Regions from separate parts of the Homo sapiens genome. Here region 2 is linked to region 1. The links come from fine-mapping of genetic effects on gene expression. A gene starts in region 1. The other region holds a variant in brackets. All regions are shown on one strand. Distances are from middle to middle. Region 1 holds the start of BTG1 (BTG anti-proliferation factor 1). Region 2 overlaps LINC01619 (long intergenic non-protein coding RNA 1619).

Region 1 (16,025 bases):
AACTGGGGTAATTGGGGCATCCATCACATTACACAGTTATCTTTTCTTTATACTGAGAACATTCAAATTATTCTCTAATAGCTATTTTGAAATATAAAATAGATTACTATTTAATATAGTCACTGTATTGATTTATCAAATGCTAGATAGTAAATCTTCTATTTAATTGTATTTTGTACCCATTAGTGAATCTCTTTTCATCCCTTCTCCTACCTAGCCTTCTCCGCATCTAGTAGCCATCTAGCCATCAATCTACTCTCCATCCCCATGAGATCCACTTTTTAAGCTCCCAATATGAGTGAGAACACGCAATATTTGTCTTTCTGTGCTTGGCTTATTTTTCTTCAATTGTTCTAAAATTATTTTGTTTTTCCAGCACAGGAAAAAGGAGGCTTATTTTATTTAACATAATGACCTCCAGTTCCATTCAAGTTGCTGCAAATGACAGGATTTCATGCTTTTATTAATGGCTGAATATTTCATTGTGTATATATTCCACATTTTCTTTATCCATTCATCCACTGATGGGCATTTAGGTTGATTCCATATATTGGCTATTGTGAATAGTACTGCAATAAGCATGGAAGTGCAGGTATCTCTTCAGTGTTGTTTTTAATTACAGAATTTTGCCATTACTTTTTCACAGCAATGGTTCTCCAACATTAGTACCTAGACAGTACCCTATCCCCAGAGTTTTTAATTCACAGGTTTAGAATGAAGGCAAAATTTTGCATTCCTATCAAGTTCCCAGGAAGACTCTGATGCTGCTGGTTTGGGGAACACATTGGGAGAACCAGTGAGAAGTCCCAATCCCTTGCTTCATTAGTTTAAGGGAAAGGGGAGGCTGAACGTAGTGGCTCACGCCTGTAATCCTAGCACTTTGGGAGGCTGAGGAGGGAGGATCGCTTGAGCCCACGAGTTCAAGACCAGCCTGGGCAACATAGGGAAACCCTGTCTCTACAAAAACCAAAAAAATTAGCTGGGCATGGTAGCGCGCACCTGTAGTCCCAGCTACTCAGGAGGCTGAGATGGGCAAGGCTGCGGGGTAGGGGTGGGGGGAGTGGCCGTGCATAACTTGAGCCCGAGAGGTAGAGGCTGCTGTGAGCTGTGATCCTGCCATTGCACTCCAGCCTAGGTGACAGAGTGAGAGACCCTGTTTCAAAAACTAAATGAATACAAGGAAGGGGAGGTCCATGTACCCCACTTCCCCCTTCAGAAAGTTATAAATACTATACTCCAGGATCATAATTTGTAAGAACTTTGTACGATTTTTCAAAGTTTCCAATGTTCCAGAGTTAATTCTTATTAACTCTTTCCCCACTCTACTGTTTTTTGTTTGTTTGTTTGTTTTGTTTTATTTGAGAGGGAGTCTCGCTCTGTCGCCCAGGCTGGAGTGCAGTGACGCGATCTCGGCTCACTGCAAGCTCCACCTCCCGGGTTCACGCCACTCTCCTGCCTCAGCCTCCCCAGTAGCTGGGACTACAGGCGCCCGCCACCACGCCCGGCTAATTTTTTTATATTTTTAGTAGAGACGGGGTTTCACTGTGTTAGCCAGAATGGTCTCAATCTCCTGACCTCGTGATCTGCCCGCCTCGGCCTCCCAAAGTGCTGGGATTACATGCGTGAGCCACCGCGCCCGGCTGTCTACTGTTAAACCTTAAAATTGAAGAGGTCTTTGGCAGCTGGGGGGTGCAGATAAACACTCAGTAACCCTGACCACCACGTGGTTGCCTCCGGTGACAATATAGACGGTGAGAGCTTTAAAAAGAGATAGGCCAGGAGGTTCTGGCACCAGGAAGGAGAAGGTTTGGGGAGGAGCCCAGCTTTGAGAAATGGCCCTGCAGCTATGCAGTAGAAAGTTGAGTGAGAATTCCCGGAGGCCACTGATCAGATTCAACAGTGACCTGGACACAAAACCATCCCTCCTTGCTGCCCTCCCACCTCCCCCACCGAACCCTCCAGGGCCCGCCTCAGTTGCTGGGCAAGAGAGATTGTGGAACTGACCAGGCCCCTGGTTCCTTTTGTCAATTTAGGCCAAAGGGGAAATGAAAAGTTTAAATGGTCTTAAATAGAAAGCACTTTTGCTACTTTCTCTTATCTGTACCTAGGGATAATTTTCATTCCAGTTAAATTATTTGGCAGATTAACATTTTAATATGTTCCTTGTTTCATTTTCCAGTGGGCCTTTTAATAAATGTAGCTGTATCTTACAGATTATGTCAGCTATGAGATGTCCCCTCAGCTGCCTTGAGTTTTGATTTTTTTTTTCCTACTACTATCTCTACTCATCTCCAGATGGTCTTCTAACTTTATCAGGTTTTATTTCTCAAGGTCCTTTTTAGGAAAGGTAATATCAGGAGCTCCCTTGAAAACCCTACCAGGTATTTAGAGCTCAAATTTTGTAGTCCATGACTTGAGAGTTCAAATCTGGCTGTAAAACCTTGGGTAAATTACTTATTTTCTTTAAGACTGTATTCTTATATGTTAAATGCTGTCAACTATACTCACTCGATTGGGTTTCTTAGAGAATTAAATGGGAAAGCATGGCTGGGTGCGGTGGCTCATGCCTGCAATTCCAGCACTTTGGGAGGCTGAGGTGAGTGAATCGCTTGAGCCCAGGAGTTCAAAACCAGCCTGGGCAACATGGTGAAACCCCGTCTCTACCAAAAAATTCAAAAATTAGCCAGGCGTGGTGGAACGTGCCTGAAGTCCCAGCTATTCAGGAAGCTGAGTGGAAAGATAAGCTTGAGCCCAGGAGGCGGAGGTTGCAGTGAGCTGTGATCGCACCGCCACACTCCAGCCTGGGCAACAGAGTGAGTCTCAAAAAAAAAAATAAATAAATAAATAAATAAAAAGAGAGAGATAGAAAGCATGTAAAACACTTAGCACTGATGCATTGTTAATGATAAAATGATAATAACCTGCATTATTACTTTTGTTGTTAAGCGATGCTTCACTCCTTTTTCCTCCCACTCTCCAAACAATCTGAATAGCTTCCACCAGAAGAAACTGAGTTTTGTCTAAAATCATTATGTGTCACCCTCTGACTGAAAGTTCTTTTGTGTTTTGTGAATCGCAGTAGATCTAAACCCAGTGCAAATGTCTTAGCTTGTGTCCTTGGATTCTTATTCAAGCAGAGCAAGTCAGGGTGCTAGCAGGGAGGCAACTAAAAGTGGTCTTCTCCTTTCTGCGGGTAACAAAAAAATAGATAAATAAGAGGCATAGGTATCTAGTTGAAGACATAAGCCCACAAGAAAAGCTAACTTATTTAAAGATAAATCTGATCATATAATCTGTCTGCTAAAAACACTCTCAAGAGTACTCTCAAGTACCCTATGCCTGCCTCCATCTACCAGTTTTTTCAACAATACTTATCCTCCTTGGTTTATGCCTTTGAGATACTCCAAGATCAAGCCCGTTCCTTTCCTCCAAGGAGAACTAATCTTGGGTCACTTTCATTGGCTTAGCTGAGATCATTCACTTTTGGGGTTTTCTTATTTTCCCTCTGCCCCGCAACACACAAATAAATAAGTGCCCTGTCTCTATTTGCCATTAACACTCTCTCAAGAACTCTCACTTGACTCTGTACTTATTGGTTAAGTTGTGAGTTTTCTAGACACCTAGCACTCTATCTGGAAGTAGGTGCGTAATAAGCACAACTTTAGTGACTGCAGCTAGCTGACTAGCAACAGGCAGGTTGCCTCTGGCTCAGTCTGGAAGGCCCTGGCCCTAATGTGCCTTCAGGGAAAGGGCGGGTCCAACTGGGGAAACAATATCTAATATTTGTGCTTTTATTTGTCAACTTATTTTAAAACCCAGGTTCATTTTTTGAATTTGTTTTGACAGCATTCCTAAGATTTTTAATACTTTGATTAGAAATGTTCTAAGTTTTAGAAATTAATTAGACAGGCCAGGCGTGGTGGCCCACGCCTGTAATCCCTAAACTTTGAGAGGCCGAGGCGGGTGGATCACCTGAGATCAGGAGTTTGAGACCAGCCTGGCCAACATGGTGAAACCCCATCTCTACTAAAAATACAAAATTTAGCCAGGCGTGGTGGTGCATGCCTGTAATCCCAGCTACTCGGGAGGCTGAGGCAGGAGAATCACTTAAACCTGGGAGTCGGTGGCTGCAGTGAGCCAAGATCGCGCCACTGCACTCCAGCCTGGGTGACTGAGCGAGACTCTATCTCAAAAAAAAAAAAAAAAAATTTCATAAATTACTATCAAATTGCATGATAATAATAAAGTACTTGGGAGAGCCTTGGTAAACTTAGCACAACAACACAGAAAGCACCTTTGTAATTCAAAAGCTGTCCAGAAATACCTGCTTGTTTCCCAGATGGGAAGGGCCTGACTAAACTTCCAGAAAATGTGACTAAACATATATATGTCAGGAATTGAAAACTATTAGCAATGAACATTATGTACCATCTAAGGCTTACGTTTAAGACTAATGTTTATTTCCAGTTTTTTTCTGAGTACTCTGTAGATTCCCAAGTTAAAAATTACTGTAGTTTCTCAAATCAGTTTGTCTCCTAATGGGATGATTTAAGGTGGGAAACACACATATATAATTTGAAAAACTCAGTGCGGGAAGTAACTCTCCCTGAGTCTATGGGTTAAACTTTCTGTTAACCCTGTTCAACTGGTTTTATAAGGCTTTCAGAAGGGGTCCTGCTGCTGCTAGTGCAGGCAGTTAAAAATAGTATGGAGAACAAGGGCTTGGGGGAAGTCTGAGTCCAATCCTAGCATTTTGTTGATTTAATATTTCTGTTTTTTAGATGAGACAATTTAAGCACATGACCGAGAGGCCAAGTTGGAGACCAGGTTTAGAAGAGAAAAACTTTCACTTGACTCCTAATTTGTACTCAGTGACACATTAACGACAATGTAAGTGAAAGCAGGGAACTAAGGGTGGGTCAGGTTAGGTGGGAGACCAGGAGTTGTTATTCTAGTGTTATGGTAATTTCATGAATTTACTTTTGCTTCTCGATCTTCTTTTTGAGTAGTAAAAGAGGTTTCATGCCTCCAGTGAAATTACTATTTTTAAGCAGAGTTCTATCTGAAAAGTTCTATAAGAAAAAAAAAAACCACTCTTTAATTTTTTCACATGTAACTACTTAGTTATGTGTACTAATGAAAAAATAATCTAGAAGTTATTTTTTCAAATCGAGTTTTACATATTTTTTAAACAATAAAACGTTTTCTCCTGTTTTATAATGTCATTATTTTTGCTTCATTTCTATATCCTTTAGCTCAGTATTAAAAAGAAAAAAAAAACACTCAAAGTGGTGTGTTTTGCAATATTGATGATCAACTAAGGTCGGGATATTTATTTCCATCTGGTAGAGTTCAACTTCTGCCTCCTGTTTGCTTTCTCCATCTGCCTGCCTCCCTTCATCTTTCTTTTTTTCTTTTCCCCCTTCTCCTTAATGGAGTTGGGGTTAACCCTGTCTTAGGCCTAATCGTTTTAGCAGGCTCCCGCCTTCCTGTTACACTGGTTTTTAAGGTTGTTTTTTTTTTTTTTTGGTAGGGTTTCAAATAAACTTGAATGTCTACACTTAATACTTTCACAAGCTTCAAATTCTTTTTATTTTATTTTTATAAAGAGCAGGACTCAGGCTAGGACGGCATTTGGACTAGGTAAAAAAGAAAATCTTCAGTTTTGTGCACACAAGTTTTAAAATACATTGTACAGATTTTTTTTTTTTGGATACACACCACTCTTTACAGGATCCGCGTTATATCTGCTTTCAGTAACTGGCTCTCCTGTCCGCATCCAGTAAGGTTTCCACTCTTCTCTCCGTTGACTGCTGAAGTTACTGAAACAGCAACCACAAATGGCCTTACTAACCTACTTATTTTGCAATTAAACTTTTAAAAGATATCCCCCTACTCCTCCCCTAGGGTGGAACAGAAATGGCTCCGCGGCGTTGGCAGCTCGTCTGCGAGGGGACCCTGGCTCCCCGAGGCTGCAGTCCTTTTTCTTGGACAGAACGCCCCGCAGGACCGTTCCCTCCACTTTCCCCCGCACTAAGGCAGCGCACCGCCAGCACACACAGCGCTGGCGCCCGCATCGCGCCGCACCACACGCGTCTCCGGCTTGAGGAGCCAGTCACCGAGACCCGGAGCGGGAACGAGATGTAAACACGGAGTGGGGACATGCAGCCCGATCTGAGAAGGCGGCGTGAAGAGTAGACACAGCCTGCGCCAGGCGGTTCTTATTTACCCAGCACTTACACTCCAGGGCAAGCGGGCCCAGGCAGCGCACTCTTGGAGAAGGATGCACTGGCGCAGAGCCTGGACCTGCTGAAGCGGGAAGGAGGAGCTAGGGCTGGGGGCGGAGCTTTCACACGCGCACCCTCTGTTCCCTCCCTCCCTCCCTCGACACAAGCAACTGGGTCTCCAGCCGCCACTCCGGGTTTATTTGTTTACAAGCGGATTACGTCAGCTCCTCCCTCTCTTCCCTATCTCTGGACCCGCCTCCTGAACTCTTTTCCCGCCCCTTTCGGCTCCGAACCGGCTTGCGTCACAATGGTGCGATATTCGGATTGGCTGGAGTCGGCCATCACGCTCCAGCTACGCCACTTCCTTTTCGTGGCACTATAAAGGGTGCTGCACGGCGCTTGCATCTCTTCGCCTCTCGGAGCTGGAAATGCAGCTATTGAGATCTTCGAATGCTGCGGAGCTGGAGGCGGAGGCAGCTGGGGAGGTCCGAGCGATGTGACCAGGCCGCCATCGCTCGTCTCTTCCTCTCTCCTGCCGCCTCCTGTCTCGAAAATAACTTTTTTAGTCTAAAGAAAGAAAGACAAAAGTAGTCGTCCGCCCCTCACGCCCTCTCTTCCTCTCAGCCTTCCGCCCGGTGAGGAAGCCCGGGGTGGCTGCTCCGCCGTCGGGGCCGCGCCGCCGAGCCCCAGCCGCCCCGGGCCGCCCCCGCACGCCGCCCCCATGCATCCCTTCTACACCCGGGCCGCCACCATGATAGGCGAGATCGCCGCCGCCGTGTCCTTCATCTCCAAGTTTCTCCGCACCAAGGGGCTCACGAGCGAGCGACAGCTGCAGACCTTCAGCCAGAGCCTGCAGGAGCTGCTGGCAGGTGAGCAGGGCGAGGGCGTCGGAGGGACGCGGGCCCCACATCCCTGGGTCAGAGTCCGGCCGTCGGGGCTGCGGGAACCTCGGCAGCGCCCCGGGGCCGGTCGCGCTTGGGCCCCGCCGCGGGACCGGTGTGGTTGCGCTGGGTGGCCGCTAACAGCGGTTCCCCGCGAGGCTTTAGGGGCTGGACGGAGGGCGCCCCCTTCCCCCCAGCTGGCAAAACGGAGAGGAGAAGACAACACGCACAACAAAGAAACTTAAGCCCACCGAGGCGGGAGCTGCGGTCCGAGGACCGTCGGCGGATTTGGGGACAAAGGAGCCGTGGGGCTGGGGTGGGTTCGACGTCCCCTTTCCTCAGCCCCCTCCAACCGTTGCGTGGTCGGCGGCCCAGCCCCGGGGTGGGAAGCTGCGCCGCTGCCCCGGAGCCAGCTCAGAACGGACGTGCCGTCTCCCCGCGCCTCCTGCCCCTGCCCATTAATCATCGGATTTGTCACCGGCACAATTAACAGCCCTGCCCAGAGCGTGGTTTAGGGTTGCTTGTTTTTCTTCCCTTCGGGGTTAACAGTCCGGTGGCGCTTCTCATCTCCAAAGCCATCAACTCCATTGTGTGCATCTGGGGTGGGGTGGAGAAAGTAAACAGTTTCTCGCCTGGCCATAGGTGCCAGTGGCTTCCCGACTGGCCGAGGCTGCGCGCCTGATTCCTGTTTTGGCGGCTCAACCGGTTGGTTCCTGGAGATTGTTTTGTCCGGTACTACTGTGTTATTTCTAAAACCCTGCCCGCTTTTTCCATCCCCGCACATGCACAACAACGGATGCAATCCTGGACATTTTAAAAAGTTGATAGTTTTCATTTTCGCTCCTCAAAGGAGCCTGGGGTAGGAGGAATCCGCAGTGGGAGCTAACGATCCTAAGCGTTGTTTCTCTGTTCTTCTTTTCTTCTATAGAACATTATAAACATCACTGGTTCCCAGAAAAGCCATGCAAGGGATCGGGTTACCGTTGTATTCGCATCAACCATAAAATGGATCCTCTGATTGGACAGGCAGCACAGCGGATTGGACTGAGCAGTCAGGAGCTGTTCAGGCTTCTCCCAAGTGAACTCACACTCTGGGTTGACCCCTATGAAGTGTCCTACAGAATTGGAGAGGATGGCTCCATCTGTGTGCTGTATGAAGCCTCACCAGCAGGAGGTAGCACTCAAAACAGCACCAACGTGCAAATGGTAGACAGCCGAATCAGCTGTAAGGAGGAACTTCTCTTGGGCAGAACGAGCCCTTCCAAAAACTACAATATGATGACTGTATCAGGTTAAGATATAGTCTGTGGATGGATCATCTGATGATGATGGATAAATTTGATTTTTGCTTTGGGTGGGCTCCTCTTGGGGATGGATTATGGAATTTAAACCATGTCACAGCTGTGAAGATCTGGCACAAGATAGAATGGTAAAAAAAAAAAAAATTTTAAGTGACAGTGCCATAGTTTGGACAGTACCTTTCAATGATTAATTTTAATAGCCTGTGAGTCCAAGTAAATGATCACTTTATTTGCTAGGGAGGGAAGTCCTAGGGTGGTTTCAGTTTCTCCCAGACATACCTAAATTTTTACATCAATCCTTTTAAAGAAAATCTGTATTTCAAAGAATCTTTCTCTGCAGTAAATCTCGCAGGGGAATTTGCACTATTACACTTGAAAGTTGTTATTGTTAACCTTTTCGGCAGCTTTTAATAGGAAAGTTAAACGTTTTAAACATGGTAGTACTGGAAATTTTACAAGACTTTTACCTAGCACTTAAATATGTATAAATGTACATAAAGACAAACTAGTAAGCATGACCTGGGGAAATGGTCAGACCTTGTATTGTGTTTTTGGCCTTGAAAGTAGCAAGTGACCAGAATCTGCCATGGCAACAGGCTTTAAAAAAGACCCTTAAAAAGACACTGTCTCAACTGTGGTGTTAGCACCAGCCAGCTCTCTGTACATTTGCTAGCTTGTAGTTTTCTAAGACTGAGTAAACTTCTTATTTTTAGAAAGTGGAGGTCTGGTTTGTAACTTTCCTTGTACTTAATTGGGTAAAAGTCTTTTCCACAAACCACCATCTATTTTGTGAACTTTGTTAGTCATCTTTTATTTGGTAAATTATGAACTGGTGTAAATTTGTACAGTTCATGTATATTGATTGTGGCAAAGTTGTACAGATTTCTATATTTTGGATGAGAAATTTTTCTTCTCTCTATAATAAATCGTTTCTTATCTTGGCATTTTAATCAATCTCTTGTCATGATTATAGAGGTTTAGCTAAAAGTATTTTTTCTTAGAAGACAGGTTCTATAAACTGAATCTCTGTTGCACACTGGTCATGCTGGAAAAACATTTGATGAGGAATGAAGATGCTCTGTATATACATGTTTAGGTTTTACAGGAAACACAGGAGTAGCATGTTTTAAAAATTTCTAAAGTCAAAACATGGACACATTCACAGGCTAATGATCTCATGAAATAAGGATAAGAGACCACGGTAGCATCTACCAAAAATGTGATACTCAAAGGATTACATTTCATTGCTTCCCTGTTGAAGTGAAGATATAAATGTTCCATTCTGACCCACCTTTGAAAAACAATTACTTTGCCCCATGGATTCTTTGTTCAATTAGAAATTTCCCCGGGGCAGGTGACCCATAGTCTTAAAGAACAGGCTAAACACCACAGAGAGATTGGTTGCTTTTTGCTTTTCATCACCTGCAAGATGTACATAAAAATCACATAAGCTGGAATTCAACAAAAGGTATGTTTATGAACTTTTATTCTCAAAAGTTGAAATGCTGACTTTCTCGATTCCTCATTTTCAGACTTTTATTTCAGATAAATACTAAAAACCTAAGTGAACCTTGATAATGCTGTAGTGTAGATTACTTCACTACCCCATATAATAGAAGGACTTGCTGTTTAGTTGTAGAGGATAACAGCGTTTTTCAGTGGAAATTGAAAGTGGAAAAATTGAATTTTGCTCTACACAGTTAACATATAGTGGCCTTTTTTTGGTATATATGTAAACATGTTGACACTGGAAATACGCAGTCTGAAATAAAATTAGTAATTACTTGAAATTAGTAATCTCAAATAACTTTTAAGAAGTTATTTCTACACCCAGGAATAAATTATTCTGATTTTGTAGACAACACAGGAATAGGCCACTGAATATGCAGGTATTTAGAGTACAAATGTCTGTGGATATTATTGGCACACCATTCTCGAGAGTTAGAATTCGTAGACCCGCAACACATGGACTACCCTTGCCAATTGTTATGGTTTTATTTTTAAACCTATTCTGTGAAAAAGCTCCTCGGTATTTCAAACTTGAATTACAATAAAAACACCAGGTAGGGTTGTTTTTAAATGGGTCTCACCCCAGTGCTGACTACTGTTGTTTACCAACTACATTTCATCTGGTAACTCCATTGAAACTAAGTACCTCAACCATTTTTTTTTTTTATCATAAAGCCTTTTTTCAAATGGAAAGTTGTTTTTGAAGATCTTGACATCAGACTTTTTCAATCTTTGAAAATGATGGAAACAGTTAATAAAAATGTTTATTTTAGAATTCAGGTGATGTCTGGCTTGTGAGGAGCTGTTTATAAGTTTGTCTTTGAAAAAGGCTTGCACACATCACTCTGAGACCAGCTGTTTCCTGTGACTTTAACCTTACCTTCCCCAGACAATTGAGCTGAACCTGTATCTGCGGTACAGTAGCTGTTTGTGATGTATTTCTTGTTCACTGTTTCTGGGGAATGTTTTGAAATATTTTATTATAAATCCTTTTAAGATAGGATGACTACTTTCAAAATTATTGTTGCCTTTGGCACCAGGAATTCATAGTTGTGATTGGCAGTAAGTTTGAGGAGTGTTACTTTCTAAGTTTTAACAGGTAGTTTTGAAATTATTTCCTTTTTTCCAAATTTAAGTAGTGCCTCCCTCTGTAATGTTGAAACAAGGCTTCAAGTGGATTGTATAGCAAGAGTTACCCTGGTTCATGCAGGATAATGCGGCTGTTATCTTTGTCATCTGGAATGGGAATCTCATGTCTTTATCCTTATGTGCAATATTTCTATAATAATAGACTGGAAAGGCCACCAGAAAGTGGCTTTCAGGTACATTGCACAAATAGTTTCCTTAAGTCATTATAACTCACACATTGCAAGTAATTAATTTTGTTTTGTATAGGTGTTGCAGTTTATGAAATTGGCCTTCAAGTTAAAAGGAAGGAAGCCGTATTCCCGATGGCTAGTGTTTAATGACTACAGGTTTCCAGGCTCCCTTTAATCTTGGGAGCAAATAAATCTACTATTGGACTTCTCCCTGCGTGACTTTTAACATTTCTGATACTCTCTCTTCTTCCTCTTTACAGAAGAGAGGTATGATAACTGAAGTTGTACTTTGCATATTGAAGTTTAAAGATACTTCCTCTCCCCTTTTCACCCCTATTTCAAATGATGTGATAAAATCCTCTTGATAGGCTATATGGAGAACATTTGTCAATAGTTTTATCTATGCATGGAAGTCTTCAAAAAGTATATCTTGGATTGTCTAAAACTGAATAGATTTCTTATTTATCTGAAGGTATACAGACTGCCAACATTTTAGACTTATCTCTCAGTCTCTGCCACTGAACTTTTATATATGGCTGCTATCAAAATATAACCGGTTTATTTTCATATTTGGAACTAATATAACAGTATCACAAAATCTTTTACAGTAAGATAGTTTGTAATACCAGCCGACCCAGCTGCTTAACTGAGTCCTTAAATCATTTAATATATGGGACTGTAAATAGAGAAATCTGTACATTATGAGATCTGATTTCTGGTTATGCCTATAGATCTTTATTTTCTTTATCCCTATAGATCATTTTCTTCTGATGTTAAGTGTTATATTTTTGAAATGCTCCTAAACAAGTAAGCCTTAGATTGTATTAATCCTGAGGATTGATACCATTTCCTCAACACTTTGTGGAGTATGATTGACACCAGTTTTTTTTTGACTGCAGGTTTAACTTGGCTTATCACTTTTCGTATTGCTCAGTATGTCCAAGATAGGAATAAAAAAATGTAGTTCAACTTCTGACTGTTATTTATGAGCCTTTTCATGGTATTTATCATTTTAGTATTGAAGATGCAGTGTTCTTTTGGGAATTACGTATGCTTAGAAGAGAGTACTGATGCTCAAAGGTGAAATGATTTGAATCTAGAGTTGGATAAAAAGGGAAAGGATGGGGAAAATGAAAACTGGGAAGCTAAACTGAGAAGGAATTGCAAGGTTTGGTGATAAAAATTCATTTGCTATGGTCATAGTTGTGTATCGAGAGGTTTGCACAGCACAGTCTCTTGGCAGAGTTTAGGAATCTCTACTCTGGGGATTCTGCAGTTCATGAATCGTCAGGGAGACTCTGCATTCAATTTGTTTCTGTGAACATGCAGGTGAAAGTGGTAGTACAGGTGGAACTTCATGGGAACTGGTTTTGGGGGAGGTGTGGATGGAAAGCACAAATGTCTCAGTATTTTCTAAAGGGAGACTATTTTTAAAGGTGTCTTGTTACAAACCACTTGATTATAGCCTCTTTTCTTGTACCTTTAAGTTGTGAAGGCCATTTGTGACTCATTCCTGGTGGTAGAAAAATGACCAAGTGTAGGCCAGACATATAACATCACATTAGTACCATTATAGTTAACTGGATCCCTGTATTTGGAGAATATTACATCAAACACTATGTATAATTTCAAATTGTAGCATTAATAGGAGATACTTCACCCGTGAGTACATTTACTTTTAGTGATTCTCTAGATGGTCATCTCCAAAGTTATTTTGTCATTCTTTTAGAATATTTTTGTATGTATTTTCATGTGTGCATGCAAAAGCATGTGGCACATTTTCTAAACAAATATACATATATTTGACATACACTAAAAATTTTGTTGATAGGATGCATGATCAGAAACATTTAGAGACTATTTCTTTAGGTTTTCACTAAAGTAGATGAATATTTGCTCTCCCCAAAATAACTCATAATTATGTTCTTTAAGTGGTAAGTCTTAAAATGACAAGTTAGTGTAGCAATACAAAGAGGATTGCCTTGTATAAGTTTAACTTATTTGCATAAGTCTTTATAATAATAAAACTAAGTCATCCTTTACAGCCAACAGATATCCAAATTGTGTTACACCAATTTGAAATCTATGTTCCCATATATTCAACTATGTGTTGCTGTGTGTTGAAATTCACATTTTTGTTTCTCAGAAGTTTTTTTTTAAATCTTAGGGTCTTTGTAACATTGATATGCATGGTTGTAAGAGAACTGAATTATCGAAGTTGTAGATGGGTGATTTAATTATTTTAGTAGTTATGGCTTAGCAAGAAAGGCCCTGTATCTTTTCCCTCTTGTTCTGAGCCATCCCTAAATTTTTGAAGGAAAAGATGACTAACAAATTGGACTTTATTTGAGAAGATTCCATAAATGACCATAAGCCATAAAATGATTAGACTTGACAATTGCTTTATGAGCAGATTTGAGTACACTTTCTAGTAGTTGTCTTGATTTATGGCAGTTTTGTCCCAAGTCAGTAGACTAAATGGAGTTGTATTTCCCACAAATTGTACTTGTGAGTCTTCAAGTTATCAATATATATTCTAATTTGACCTTCCAACAACTGGATGAGGTTGGCAAGTGGGTCAGTATTTTTTATCTTCATTTTATGGATAGAAAACTGAGGCTTAGAGAGCTTAAGTAATTTACCCTAAAGCCAGACAGCTCGTAAACAGCTAATTCACAATTTGAATTCAGGCTTTTCTGATCACAGAATCCAAACTCTTAACTATTGTTACATTGTGATGCATGATTTATCTACCTTCTTTTACACTGTTGGAACATGTATTTTAACTTCTCATTGTGAGTTGGCCATCTTTGGTTATTTTCAGCCTTGAAACTCTTTCACTATGTTCCGGAGGCATATAGCAGTCTACAATTAGGCTCCTTTCTTTGAGAGGCAGTTGGAATTTAGCATAAAGAATACTAGTCTGGGACTCAGACCAATAAGTTGAAATCTTGACTTGTACCAACTTGTGACTTTGGACCAGTTGCTTAGCCTCTCTGAGCCCATCATTCCTTGTGTAATAATGGAGACAAGTCATTTGTTGTCAAGGTAAACATGAAATCATATAGCTAGTGAATGTTTGGATTCTTGGAATTTGAATACTCTATCATGGAGGCCAACAAAATATAGCTGATTGTTTTCTTGTGTGTGTGTGTGTGTGTGTGTGTTTTAACAATTTGATCATAGTATGATTGTTAGGAGTTTCTTGAAAGATTGCTTTAGCCTATAGCTGCAAGAAATGTACTTGCGTTTTTGAAATACAATAATATAGGAAGGAAAATGAACTGCTTTTCCATTGTGAAGGATGGAAATAGACAACACAGGCCTTGCATCTTATTTTATAGAGCTTTCCTGAGCTGTGTGCCTAACATTGTGGTTTTCAGAGCTATTTTCTCAGTAAAAAAAGAGTCCTTCAGATCCTTTGTCTATATTGAAGACACCTTAAGTTGAGAGATGGAGTAATGCAACCGAACATATATAGCAATGTAGCCCTGTACAAAGCATGTTTGCTTCCATTATGTTTTTTAATCCTCACAACAACCCTTTGCTATATGAAGTTGACTTTTCCCAGGGTTTTTAGTCCTTCAAACCATTGGTATTTGGCCATGCTTTTGCAAGAGATTTTCAAACAGTGATTTTTAAACAGAACTCAGTGGTTCTCAATCTTCTTAATCTAGAGTGGTGTGAGTATTTCCTTTACTGCAAAGAAAAGCAGCCTTTTTATAAATTGTCAGTTTGAATTTGAGTTTCTTCCTGTGATGTAACCTGATGCAATGTTTGCCTGAATCACTAATAATGTAACTGATTTCCCCTAGCCAGTCATAAATGAGTCAGTGATCACGGATTCTTTTAGTTTATACTCAAGTTGCTTTTTCTGTGTGCAGATATCCTCATTGAATAGCTTGCTGTTGGGCTTGTATAGCATTATGGTTTACATCAGGGAAGTAGATAGCCAGCAGAGCTTTGTGCTAATTTATTTTGCAATCCTATAGGAAACAAAGGACCCATTCTTTGTTGAACCTGAAGAGACTTCTAGGGAAAATCAGCCTCTGACCCTTTCAGAAGTCTTGCATCTTAAAGCTCGTGTGTGGTTCAGGCCATGCTTGAACCTATGTGTGTAGCCTTATAAGTCAGTCAGTGTGCCCCTATAATGTTTAAGATTGTGATGTAAGAATAAGAGTTTGGAACCCATTAAAACAAGGGTTAGGTGGCCAGTGTTGTCAGGAATATTTCTCTCTCTCAAGCCGGTAGTCATTGTTACAATTAAGGATGGAGCTCTTAGGTAATATCACTAGATACAAGCTCTTTTTCCCTCTCAGATTCTTGCACTTTTTTCCACTACCCTTTAAGTCTTTCAGTTATTTTTTAACTTTCTTAAGATATTTTCTGGTCATTAATATACAAGTGGTGTTTTGTCTTGTGTCTATCACCTATATCTCTTACATTCATTTATTAAACACATACTTGTTGAGTCCCTCCATGTGCCAAGTACTGTGATAAGCACTAGGGTTGCAAAAATAGTCACTGTGCTTGCCCTCAATGAGCTTGGAACCTAGTGGCAGAGAGAGGGTTATCCAACAAATGTTGGGCTGGATCTGAGACATGCTGAGGAAAAGGGAAGTGGTGAAGTGGTGTCCTGAGAGCTCTAATAGAGAGATAGGACTGCCATAGAAAGGTTTCCCAGAGGAAGGGACACTTGAGCTGAGATCTGAGGAATGAGTAGGGGTTTAAGTGGAGAAGGCAGGCGAGAGAGAGAGAGGAATATGCACAAAACCTGGCTCAAGAGTA
Region 2 (11,323 bases), 38 kb after region 1:
CTAACGGCAAATCTATTATAGTAAACCTTCAAATAAAGTTATACTTAAGGTATGATTGTACTTTTTAGTTTGTGGAAGAAATTCAGTATGAATGTTCCCACACTAGTGAAATAAGTATTGATAGTAATTTAGGGTTTAGAAATAGAATCCTTCATTTTTAAATTAAGTATGTTATGATCAACTAAATATGAACTTGGACTTGCTGAACTATTTTCAGTATATGGTTAGCAAGCTATGACAATAATAACAGTGATAAAAATAATTAGCATGAGTAATAATAGTAATACCATCTAACACTTATTGACAGCTTTTTATGTGCCAGGAACTATTGTAGAATCTTTTAGTTTCACTTGTATATTTAGTCCTCACAATACCTCTGTGAGGCAGATGTTATTATTATGTATATCAGAAAACATTTTATAAACCAGTAAAAACAATATACCAATAATAATGGCAGAGTATTTTATGTTCTTTGTATGTACAATGGGACTCAACTGCTTATTTTTCTTTTATGCCTCTCTTTTCTCTAGTTTTACACTGTAGTCTAGAGAGACAGACAAAGATGAAAGAAATACACACACACGCACACAGAGAGAGAGAGAGAGAAATAGGGAAGATCTATAGGAAATTATTATGCCTAACTGATTGTAGTTTGAGTTTTGTTTTCCTTTTAAAAACTAATTTAGAGAGAAAAGAAGACAAATTCTATCATATAAGAATATTACTCTATCTCGTTGATTTTACTTAGTTTGAAACTGATAGGTGCTGAATTAAAAATTCTGGAAGATGTACTGAATTTCAAGCAGTCCGGGCATTTGTCTCCTGTATCTATCAAGTCAGACTCAAAGTAAGCACCATAGTATTTGTTGATCATTTCTCTCCCACTTACCACATTTGCCTCAAGCCAGTTACTAACTCCAGGTAGTCACTAACTTTCCCTTGGGAACACTTAACCTGGTTGTGAGTAAAAAAAGAATGAACATTTGAGATGTTGAAACAACTATCGGGAAGATGTCAATGAACAGCTCAAGACTGGAATTAATTCCACAGAGAAATGATGACTGAATAGTCAATTTAGAAAGTAAAAACTTGGACTTAAATTCCAAAATGAAAAAAAAAAAAAAAAACCTTGCAGAAGACAGGTGTTTGCTTAAAGTTCTTTCTAATCCCTAGCAACTGTGAGTCTAAGATTTTCACAAAATGAGAGGAAAGGAATTATGTGTAATTTTCTCATCTAAACTAGTCTCCTTTTGCCCACTCCTTTCCAAATTTCAGCTAAAATAGTTAGCATGTCAGCAAAATCCTGCAGTGAACATCTCTTCTGAACAATGAGAATGGGGAAACCACAGAGCCCCACTTTAAAATTACGCACCAACAAATCCAGAGTAATCAGAGGAAGCACTCAACAGATTAAATTAGACCTAATGTGGAATTTAAAACATGCCACAAGTAATTGATTTTTTTCTAGGATAATTTGAGGGCAAAGGCTTATTTGACTTAACACAATAGTGGGTCATTATTTTAACATTAATGTAAAGCAGGAAGAGTGAAGACCTTTACTACCCCCTTTATTTTAGTACCTTTCACTCTCTGTTGTAATTCTTAGTTTAAATGCCTGCCTCCACTCTTAGATTTTGAGTTCCATGAGAACAGGAATCTCTTCTTATTTACACTTGTAAAATTTATAAATGTTTGCCACAGTGTCTGGTCCATGGTAGGCAGTTACCTAATGCTTAGTGAGTGAATGCATGCCATAACAAGAGTAATATACATTAGTAGTTAAAAGGCCTGGGCTGAGTGCAGTGGCTTATGCCTGTAATCTCAGCAATTTGGGAGGCTGAGGTGGGCCGATCACTTGAGCTCAGGAGTTTGAGATCAGCCTGGGCAACATGGCGAAACCCTGTCTCTACAAACAGTACAAAAATTAGCCAGGCACGGTGGCATGCACCTGTGGTCCCACCTACTTGGGGGATGGAGGTGGGAGAATCATTTCAGCCTGGGAGGCGGAGGCTGTGGTGAACCTAGATCATGCCACTGCACTACAGCCTGGGTGACAGAGTGAGACCCTGTCTCAATAACTAACTAACTAACTAAATAAATAAATAAATAAGTCAGTCAGTCCTGGATTTGAATTCATGCTCTTTCATTAATTAAGTTACTTTGAGCAGTTGATTTAATGTTTCTTCTCAATTTAATGCTTCTTAATCTGCCGTTGAAATTTTCTTCCAGCAAATGTTTATTTCTATAGCAAGATTCACAGCATTTTGTAAAATGTGAAGCATTAAGCATGTTTTAAATGAATAATTCAAGTTTTAATATCTGATTGCCACATGTCGGAAAGCTGGCTATCATATACTCTTTTTTTCTCACACTGCCAAAAATTTCAGTTACACTCCATTCTGGCTTATTTTGTCTCTTTTTCACTGATTCTTAGGGAGGGAAAGGAGTGAAGAAAACAGTCATTGTATTGAGGATACTTAAGGTTGGAGAACTTTCTTCTTAATACTGGCTGCTAGGGGCTTTATTTCTTTGAATTCAATTTCCATGCCAACCTAAAATAGCAACTTAGTACATTTTCTTACACATGTTATAATTCTACTACAATTTATGACAGTGAAGAGAAAAACAGTGGAAGAAGAGAGATTCAGTTGGATTTTCTGGGAAAATTTCAGACCACAGGTTGGTTATTGGGTGACAGCTACTTATTTTTAAAACCATCTAGATTGTTATAACTGTGTGTAGATGACAATTGCCCTAGAAATGTTGTATGCTTTTGAAAAGCTTACATAATTGCTCATATGGCAATTGCAAAATCATCCCTTGACGCGAATTTACACCAGAGAAGAAAGTGTCTTACTTAAAATTTCAGTCTTTCCCTCCTGCAGAGAGGAGGCGGCCTGGTAGTGGAGAAGGGAGGGCTAGTAAGGAAGATAGGAAGAGGGGAGGAGTTTGTGCAATGAGCAGAAAAAAGTCACTGAAGAGTTTATAAACAGTCTCTGTACTGAGGAGATGACATTTGAAACTGTGGGAAAAAAAACCATAAACCCAATCATTTGTCCTGCTTTTATGGGGGAGATGATTATCCATTTGGCTTTTGTCCTTTTATGTTTTAAAGATTGTCAAAATAAAAACAACGTATTCATAGCATTTTATTTCCTAATTTGTCAGTTGAAAACTACCCAAAAAAA[C/AC]ACTACAGAAGAGTTTATTCAGAATCTCTATTACCTGTCATTTCAGAATTTTTTTCTCCTTAATTTTAAAAGAGCAGTGAAGGTTTCAGTGAGAAATTTTCCACCAGAAACCAGTTTAGAAGTCTGTTATTTGGAGGATGCTTGGTGGTCTGTAATCTAAAATCTGAGACGATAAAGGATTTTTCAAAATAATCGAAAGCAGGGGATATGTAGGAGAAGATAATGATGTTACGTTATAAGAGACTTCTAGTTAGTAGATTTCAAAGCCAGCTACTTAATGTTTCCCCAAAAAGTCTGCAAAGATTAAGCCTTTAAGTCCCTTTCTCTTCCCGTGTGTGTGTATGTGTGTGCATGTGCGTGTGCTTGTGGATGCACATGCTAAACAATTAAACAAACAAAAAGACAAAACATCCTTTTTCCCAGGTCTCCTAGATATTTTTTCCCCAGGCAATTCCATGTGCAACCTTTGCTTTTGCCGGTTCAGGGCAGCTTGGCCCGGGTAAGACAATAGACATACAAGATAATAACAGGGCAGTTGCTCTGTGGCATTGTCCTTTATCAGGATTAACTGTTACACCAATAAGCAAAACAGTGTGGTGGGGTTTTTCCATCACTGGCCTTTGCTGTTCCTGGGTGCCAGATGGCATTATATCCATGAAAAAAAAAAAAGCTGCAAGTTATAATGTTGACCAGGCACTGTTACTTCCACTTGATCACACTGTTTGGGGCTCTCTTTGATGTACAAAACACTCCTAAGTTAATGAAATGCGTTGCAGCTGGCTAATGGCTGGGAAAGTGCAAACCCTGCATTGAACCCTTCCCATCAGACTATTCAATGGCTAGGTAATGTCAGGCCCGAGCTGGAGAAGGGGCAAACAGGCTCGTTGCCAGGCAGGCCCGGGACTCCTGGGCAAACGGCTGTGGAGGGGCTGGTATTTTTCTCCTTTCAATAGAAGTGGTCTGTGCCTGCAGCAAATGAGAAATAAATCCATCAAGGCCAAGCTCAGGCTTATTTTGCTGGCTGCTAGAATTTGCATAAGAGCCTTGTATATACAGGTAAACAAAGACTTCCTGGAATTACTAATGTGGAGGTGATCTGAGAACTGGGAACAAAGTAGGGCCTCATCTTATGCAAAAAAAAAAAAAAGTCTGAATTAAATTTGACTTTGCTGCTGCTGATCATTTCACTGGCCTGATTCACTGGGAAAGTAGAGCATGCATAATTGGATAGGGAGGCGTTTTCTCACCCCTCTCTCCCTTGCTGCTACGGGCCAACTCCATGGAGAGACACCTTGGGTGTGGACTCCTTTGGGGAGTCGTCCTGTCTTCTGTACCTCTCTCCCCCCACAACTCCACTATAATCCCAGCTGAATTGCTGGCACTAAAAGTGTGTTCACCATCTAGACCCCTCCTCCCCCACATTTTACCAGAAATATTCCGTGTTTAAAATGCTTCCCTGTTCTCAGTTTGCCCTTATCTATGTTAGAATATAAACTTGGGTCAGGATCTCTGCTTTTAGACAAGAGGTCAGCAAACTACAGGCCAGCCTGTGAACTAAATCCAGCTTGCCACCTGTTTTGTTTTGTTTTTTTCCTTCTTCTTATTTTATTTTATGTTTGAGCTAGAGTCTCCCTTTGTCACCCAGGTTGGAGTGCAGTGGTGCAAACATGGCTCGCTGCAGCCTCGACTTCCCAGGCTCAAGCAGTCCTCCTGCTTCAGCCTTCCGAGTAGCTAGGACTACAGGTCTGGGCCACCACACTCAGCTAATACATTTGATGTTCTGTAGAGACAGGGTCTCACTTTGTTGCCCAGGCTGGCCTCGAGAACTCCTGGACTCAAGCGATCCTTCCGCCTTGGTCTTCCAAAATGCTGGGATTCCAGGCATGAGCCACTGCGCCCAGCTGCCACCGTTTTTGTACAGCCAAAAGTTAAGGAGAGTTTTAATATTTTTAAATGACAGAAAAAAAATCAAAAGACTATTTTGTGGCATATGGTAATTCTGTGAAATGCAAAGGTCAGTGTCCAGGGGTGAAGCATTATTGGAACCCCAAGTCATTTGTGCATTCTCTACGACCACTTTTGTGCAACAGCTGTGGAGATGAGGAGTTGCTTCACAGCCCGAAGAGTAAATATTCGCTGGCCCTTTGCAGAAAAAGTTCCATCCCTGCTTTGAGCTTTTTGCCTGGCTTAAACCATCCTTTTTGACCATTTCTGAAGTCTGAGGATAAGTTGAGATGGGTGAGAAACTGTCCATAATCCCAAGGTTTCCATCACCTTTGTCTGAAAAACGTTGTCAGTGCTACCATTTCCTCTACACTTTCCCCTCTTTTTAGTTTAAAATGGAACGAATTTTTGAAGTTCTTTCTAAAGCTTCCTTTCTGTACTTGGCCTCTCCACAGTCAAATCCTATGCAGACCTTCAAACAAATACTTCAGGTTTAAAATGTTCCAGGGATGTCTGTGCACCCTGAGTGCAAATTTGAGGGGAAAGGAGGGGATCTGATAAAACTTCTTATTAAGATATTTTCACATTCCAGACTCCCTCTGCCAATCCACAGTGTTGGGTTGGCAGCCCAAGGTTGCAAGCTTGTCTGAGCCAACGGAAATGAATCTGTCCATCCCCAAGCAGGTGCCCGGTTTTCTGCCCTTAGCTCTCTGCCTTTGTTAATTTCAACAGCATATTTCTCAAAAGAAGTTGCTGACCACTTTTTTACTTCCTCTTCATCCTATTTATCAGAGGTTACTGGGAGTGTGGTCGTATGACTTTCTACTGACTCCACTGTATCTTACGGTGCTGGGACCTTCTTTTTGAACTCCAGCTTTTGCAAGATTGTTGGCCACAGCTATTCTGCATCTATTAAGTATGGAATCTTTCTTCGTCAAAAGTTAACAGCAGTGGCTCTGTGTAGTGGATTGTGGGTGACTGTTTTTCTCTTCGTACTTTTCTATGTCTTCTAAGGGAAACATGTATTTCTTTTATATCAAAGAGAAGAAAGTTTAAAAAAAGGTTCTAAAAGTACTGGTGTAGCAGTAATCTCTACTTACTAATCAGTGTCTACATTGCTTCTTTCCTTTGCTTACTGAAGAGTGCCCAGACATGTGCAGATAGTATTTCAATCAATGAAACCAGATAGATCAATTCTGTCTAATAAGACCCTATTAAAAAACATTAGGTGTATGTGAGAAAGTATCTAAGAGTGTTTTGTATTTGCATTAAAAGAAACCTGGACTTCTGGTTTGTGGTCCAGCATGTAAGGACAAGTAAAAAGCTGAACAATGGCTGGGCGCAGTGGCTCACACCTATAATCCCAGCACTTTGGGAGGCCAAGGCGGGTGGATCATTTGAGGTCAGGAGTTCAAAACCAGCCAAGCCAACATGGTGAAATCCCATCTTTACAAAAAATACAAAAAATTAGCTGTGTGTAGTGGTGTATACCTGTAATCCCAGCTACTTGAGAGGCTGAGGCAGGAGAATTGCTTGAATCTAGGAGGTGGAGTTTGCAGTGAGCCGAGATCATGCCACCGCACTACAGCTTGGGTGACAGAGCGAGACTCTGTCTCAGTAAAAAAGAAAACAAACAAAAAAGCTGAACAAACAAACAAAAAACCAACAAAACAAAAAACCCAAAAAGCTGGAATGGTACTTATTGAATTGTCAATAGTAGTTATCTCGAAGTAGATTCTAGGGTCATGAGTACTTTTACTTTATGCTAAATTTGTTGGTTTATTTTGAATTTTAATTGTGATTATGTGTTACATTTGTAATGATAAAAATATTTGAAAGTAATTTAAGAATCCCAATCTCACATATATTTCCAAAGATCTTTGAATATCCAGTGGTCCCACCTACATCTGTTATTAATTAACCCCTTACTTCCACCCTCTCTTACAGCAAGAAACCCTGACGCTTAGCCCTAATATTCCCCACCATGGAAAATTTGGAAAATGTTAGTATGAGAGCTGATCTGGGTTGGGTAAAGCTGTTAAACTTTCTTTATGGCTTTTGCTTTTTGGGTTATGCATAGAAAGGCTTTTTCTACTCCAAGGTTATTTTGAAAAAAATCTGCTTTTATTTTGTCTCGAATATTTTGTTATTTAGGATTATTGTACTGTACAATTTCTAATCCACCTGGAATTTATTTGTGTATAAACTGTAAGGTAATAATCAGATACAGGATTTTTGACCTTACTATTCTGTAATCAACACAAATTAAAGTTGACATTTACAAGTGCACATGGTAAAAATAAATTATTAATTAGTTACATCCAGAATAAAATATTTTTGACAAATTTTTATCTGTAATATTTGACTTCATAGAAACAATGGTAGTAGAAGAAAACTCCCTTTATGGCTTTGGCTTTGGGTTATGGATAGAAAGGTTTTTTTCTACTCTAAGATTATAAAAATAAAAAAAATCTACTTTTTTTTTTTGGCGGGGGGGGGATGGAGTCTTGCTCTGTTGCCCAGGCTGGAGTGCAGTGGCATGATCTCGGCTCACTGCAAGCTCCATGTCCTGGGTTCACGCCATTCTCCCATCTCAGCCTCCCAAGTAGCTGGGACTACAGGCGCCCGCCACCATGCCCGGCTAATTTTTTGTATGTTTTAGTAGAGATGGGGTTTCACCGTGTTAGCCAGGATGGTCTCAATCTCCTGACCTCGTGATCTGCCCTCCTTGGCCTCCCAAAGTGCTGGGATTACAGGTGTGAGCCACCGTACCCAGCCTCTATTTTTTTCTAATACTAGTTTTTCCCTAAGAGCAGCAAAAGTTTTAACTGAAAGATTTGTTCAAAAAAATACAATTTGCTGCAAGCCATTAGAAGATTTAAATGAAAATAAATTTTGGTCTTAATGAAAATAATTTTAATAAGATAAAAATAGAAATGGGGAAAAAGAAAAACAAACAAAAATTAGAAATGGTGATAATTAGAAATGTTTTAATTATGCTATATGGCAAATTGATTAAGAAAAAATAAAATTGATTTAATCCCCAAAAAAATTCTCATGGAAAATTCATCAGTGTTGGTAAATTATTATTTTAAAAAATTGTATTAATAAAACTAGAGCAAAAAAGTCTTGGGGCCAAATCAGTGCAGTCAAGATGTTCCTTTTCTGTGGAGAATATATTTTATTTTTCTAAATAAGTTGCTCGTTATTCTGATACCAGTTATGTAGGCTTCAACCAATTCTTTCTTAATTGGATTGAAATGAAACTTTTTCATTTACTGAATTCCCATACTGGGGTCTATGTCTGTACTCTTCATTTCTGTGATCTGCTTGCCTAATGTGCACTGTTTTCAATTATTATAGATTTACAGTAGTGTTGAGACTGGGCACAGTGGCTCACGCCTGTAATACCAGCACTTTGGGAGGCTGAGGTGGGCAGATCACTTGAGGTCAGGAGTTCGAGACCAACTTGGCCAGCATGGAGAAATCCTGTCTCCACTAAAAATGCGAAAATCAGCCAGGTGTGGTGGCGGGCACCTGCAATCTCAGCTACTCAGGAGTCTGAGGCAGGAGAATCACTTGAACCCGGGAGGTGGAGGTTGCAGTGAGCTGAGATCATGCCACTGCTCTCCAGCCTGGGCAACAGAACAAGACGCCGTCTCAAAAAAATAAATAAATAAAATAAAAAATAAAAAAATACATGAAGTAGTGTTGATAACTAGTTGACTAAGCTCCCTCTTCCCCCAGTTTGAACTGAATTATTTGTCAACATTTTGTTGGCTGTTCATTCACATTTACTCTGCCATGAAACTTTAGCAACAGTTAGTTAAATAAACCAGATTTTTAATAAACCATTGGCAAGCTGCACAAATCAGGCATTTTAGTTTTAATCTCCTATCATTAAAATTTTAACCTCTAGCCTTGATTTTATATGCAGATACAGATATACAGATGTTTGTGTATTCCCCTTGTTTGATGTTTAGCTTTTAAATTAATCAAAATTATTTAATTTATTTTTGCTTTCAGATCCTGTTTTTATTTTGAGGCTTTATAATCTTTTGTTATTCATTCCTTCTGAAGATAATTTTAGGTAGTATATTATATTTTGTTCATTATCTGTTCATTTTCAAAAATGATTAGGCCGGAAAGCCCTTGCACTTCTGCTGCTCCATATGATATAATTTTGGCATCTCTGTGGAAGTAAAAATGGCAAAGAAGGTTTATTTATATTTCTGAAATTCATTACATACTCTGAGTGTTGATGAAGGGCCAAGATGTCTAAGTGGCCTTGCTAGTGGCATTTCGGTATGTCCTCTTTCTCTTTTCTAGAGAATAGGAATCTATTATTTATCCTGTCCTTTGCTGTGTCCTCTAAATTCCTGGATGAAATTCACAAGGAGCTTGTAGAGTCTACTTCGCTGTTTGATGAGAGTTGGTGATTTGAATTTGCATTCTAATGTGTCTCCTAAGGAGAGAGACTTAACCTTCACAAAGTTGTATTTTGTGAATTTGATATGAGATAATGACCAATTCTTTGAACTGATATCTTGCTTATATATCACTTGTTTATGGCTTATTTTTGGATTAACGACATAACCGTTGGTTCCGTATGGGTTTTGTTTTTTTAAACTACCTTTTATATACAAGAAATACCCCATGAAGGCAGAAATTTGGTCTAATTTCTAATTCTGTCTTCAGTGTATAAAATAATGCCTGGCTCAACACAGTGACATGTGCCTGTAGTCCTAGCTATCCAGGAGGCTGAGATGGGAGAATCTCTTGAACCTAGGAGTTTGAGGCTGCAGTGAGCTATGATCGCATCATTGCATTCCAGCCTGGACAGACAGAGTGAGACCCCATTTCTATAAACATAAGTAAAGTTAAGCTAAAAAATGCCTGGCACATAGTAAAATTAAGCTAAAAAATGCCTGGCACATAGTAGCCACCCAGTAAATATTGTCGATTGACTGACCTGCATATCTATGTTTCCAAACGCAACTTTTGAAGGATGGTAACTAATCAGAATTAGCTATTTGGCTGCCCCAGATGCCATTAACAGCATATCTGAAACAGATCTCACACAAAGCCTCTGACTCCTCTTTTTCTTTCTTTCTTTCTTTCTTTCTTTCTTTCTTTCTTTCTTTCTTTCTTTCTTTCTTTCTTTCCTTTCTTTCTTTCTTTCTTTCTTTCTTTCTTTCTTTCTTTCTTTCTTTCTTTCTTTCTTTCTTTCTTCTTTCTCTTTCTTGCTTGCTTGCTTGCTTTTCTTTTTTCTTTTTTTTTTTTTTGATGGGGTTTTGCCATGTTGCCCAGGCTGGTCTCAAACTCCTGGGCTCAATTGATCCACCTGCCTTGTCCTCCCAAAACCCTCTTATTCCCAAACTCTGATATTGGCGGCCTCCTCCTCCTCCTCATAATGTTCCTCCTTCTCCTCCTCCTCATAATGTTCAGGCTCAAACCTTTTCATTCATTTGTGAGTTTCTCTCTCTGTCTCCCCCAACATCCCCCATCACCTTCATGTCCATATCCAATTAACCCTCATATTTGCTGATTCTTCTTTACAGTATCTCTATACCTGTTCATTTCTTCCATTTCCCACTGCCCTAGTTTGGGATCTTGCTCTCTCTCACTTGGCTATTACAATTGCCTGTAATTATTGTCTTTTCCTTCCAGGGCTCTCCCTACTCTCCCACTTTGCCAAAGTCTGTTTCAATATTGCTTCTAGAACAATCATCCTTAAACAGGGTTGACCTTGTCACTGTATGCCTGTAATGATTTCTTATTGCCTAGAGAATGCCATTCAAATTCTTGAGCCTAATTTGCCTATTCTTCCAGAATGTGCAAGGCCCAGATCATGATTTCCAGTTTAATTTGTATCCTGCCATGCATGTTATTTTCCAGCCAGGACTGTGTCCCGTCATTCCCTAGACACACCCCACAGTTTATTTGCTGCTATTCTTTGTCCTGTCTCTTTGGGCTTCAGCTACACAGACCTCCTCTCAGTTGATTGCCTCCCTGCCTTCTCCCAACATAGTCATGGCCAGAAGGGCCCTCCCTGGTTTTTCTTCCAGCAGTACTTAGCTGCATAATGGTCACTCATTCTCCAGATCTCACTCCACGATCACTTCTCAGGGAAGCCGTCCATGATCTGCCACTCCCCATTTTCTACCTTTAGACTAGGTCAGTGATATGGT

The links. PIP is the estimated chance that this variant, and not a neighbour inherited with it, causes the effect.
Region 2: its variant is fine-mapped to the expression of BTG1 in whole blood (INTERVAL, PIP above 0.99).

Annotation. Positions count from the first base shown.
Region 1 is chr12:92,136,459-92,152,483 of GRCh38, reverse strand. It overlaps BTG1 (BTG anti-proliferation factor 1), which reads left to right and starts at 6,638. Exons shown (of 2, transcript NM_001731.3): 1 at 6,638-7,096; 2 at 8,037-12,206. The coding sequence starts at 6,949. The coding sequence ends at 8,404. LINC01619 (long intergenic non-protein coding RNA 1619) reads left to right here and starts at 9,653. Exons shown (of 5, transcript NR_132341.1): 1 at 9,653-9,877. BTG1-DT (BTG1 divergent transcript) reads right to left here and starts at 6,399. Exons shown (of 3, transcript NR_135036.1): 1 at 6,241-6,399; 2 at 5,722-5,822. RefSeq lists enhancers at 5,987-6,286, 7,121-7,657, 7,617-7,666, 7,927-7,976, 7,997-8,236 and 1 more and a silencer at 6,877-7,196.
Region 2 is chr12:92,100,429-92,111,751 of GRCh38, reverse strand. The region is part of intron 1 of LINC01619 (long intergenic non-protein coding RNA 1619); the gene reads left to right. Among named protein-coding and RNA genes, the nearest start is that of LINC01619, 37 kb to the left of the region's middle. RefSeq lists an enhancer at 3,504-4,042. The variant C/AC (reference allele first, on the strand shown) is at 3,189.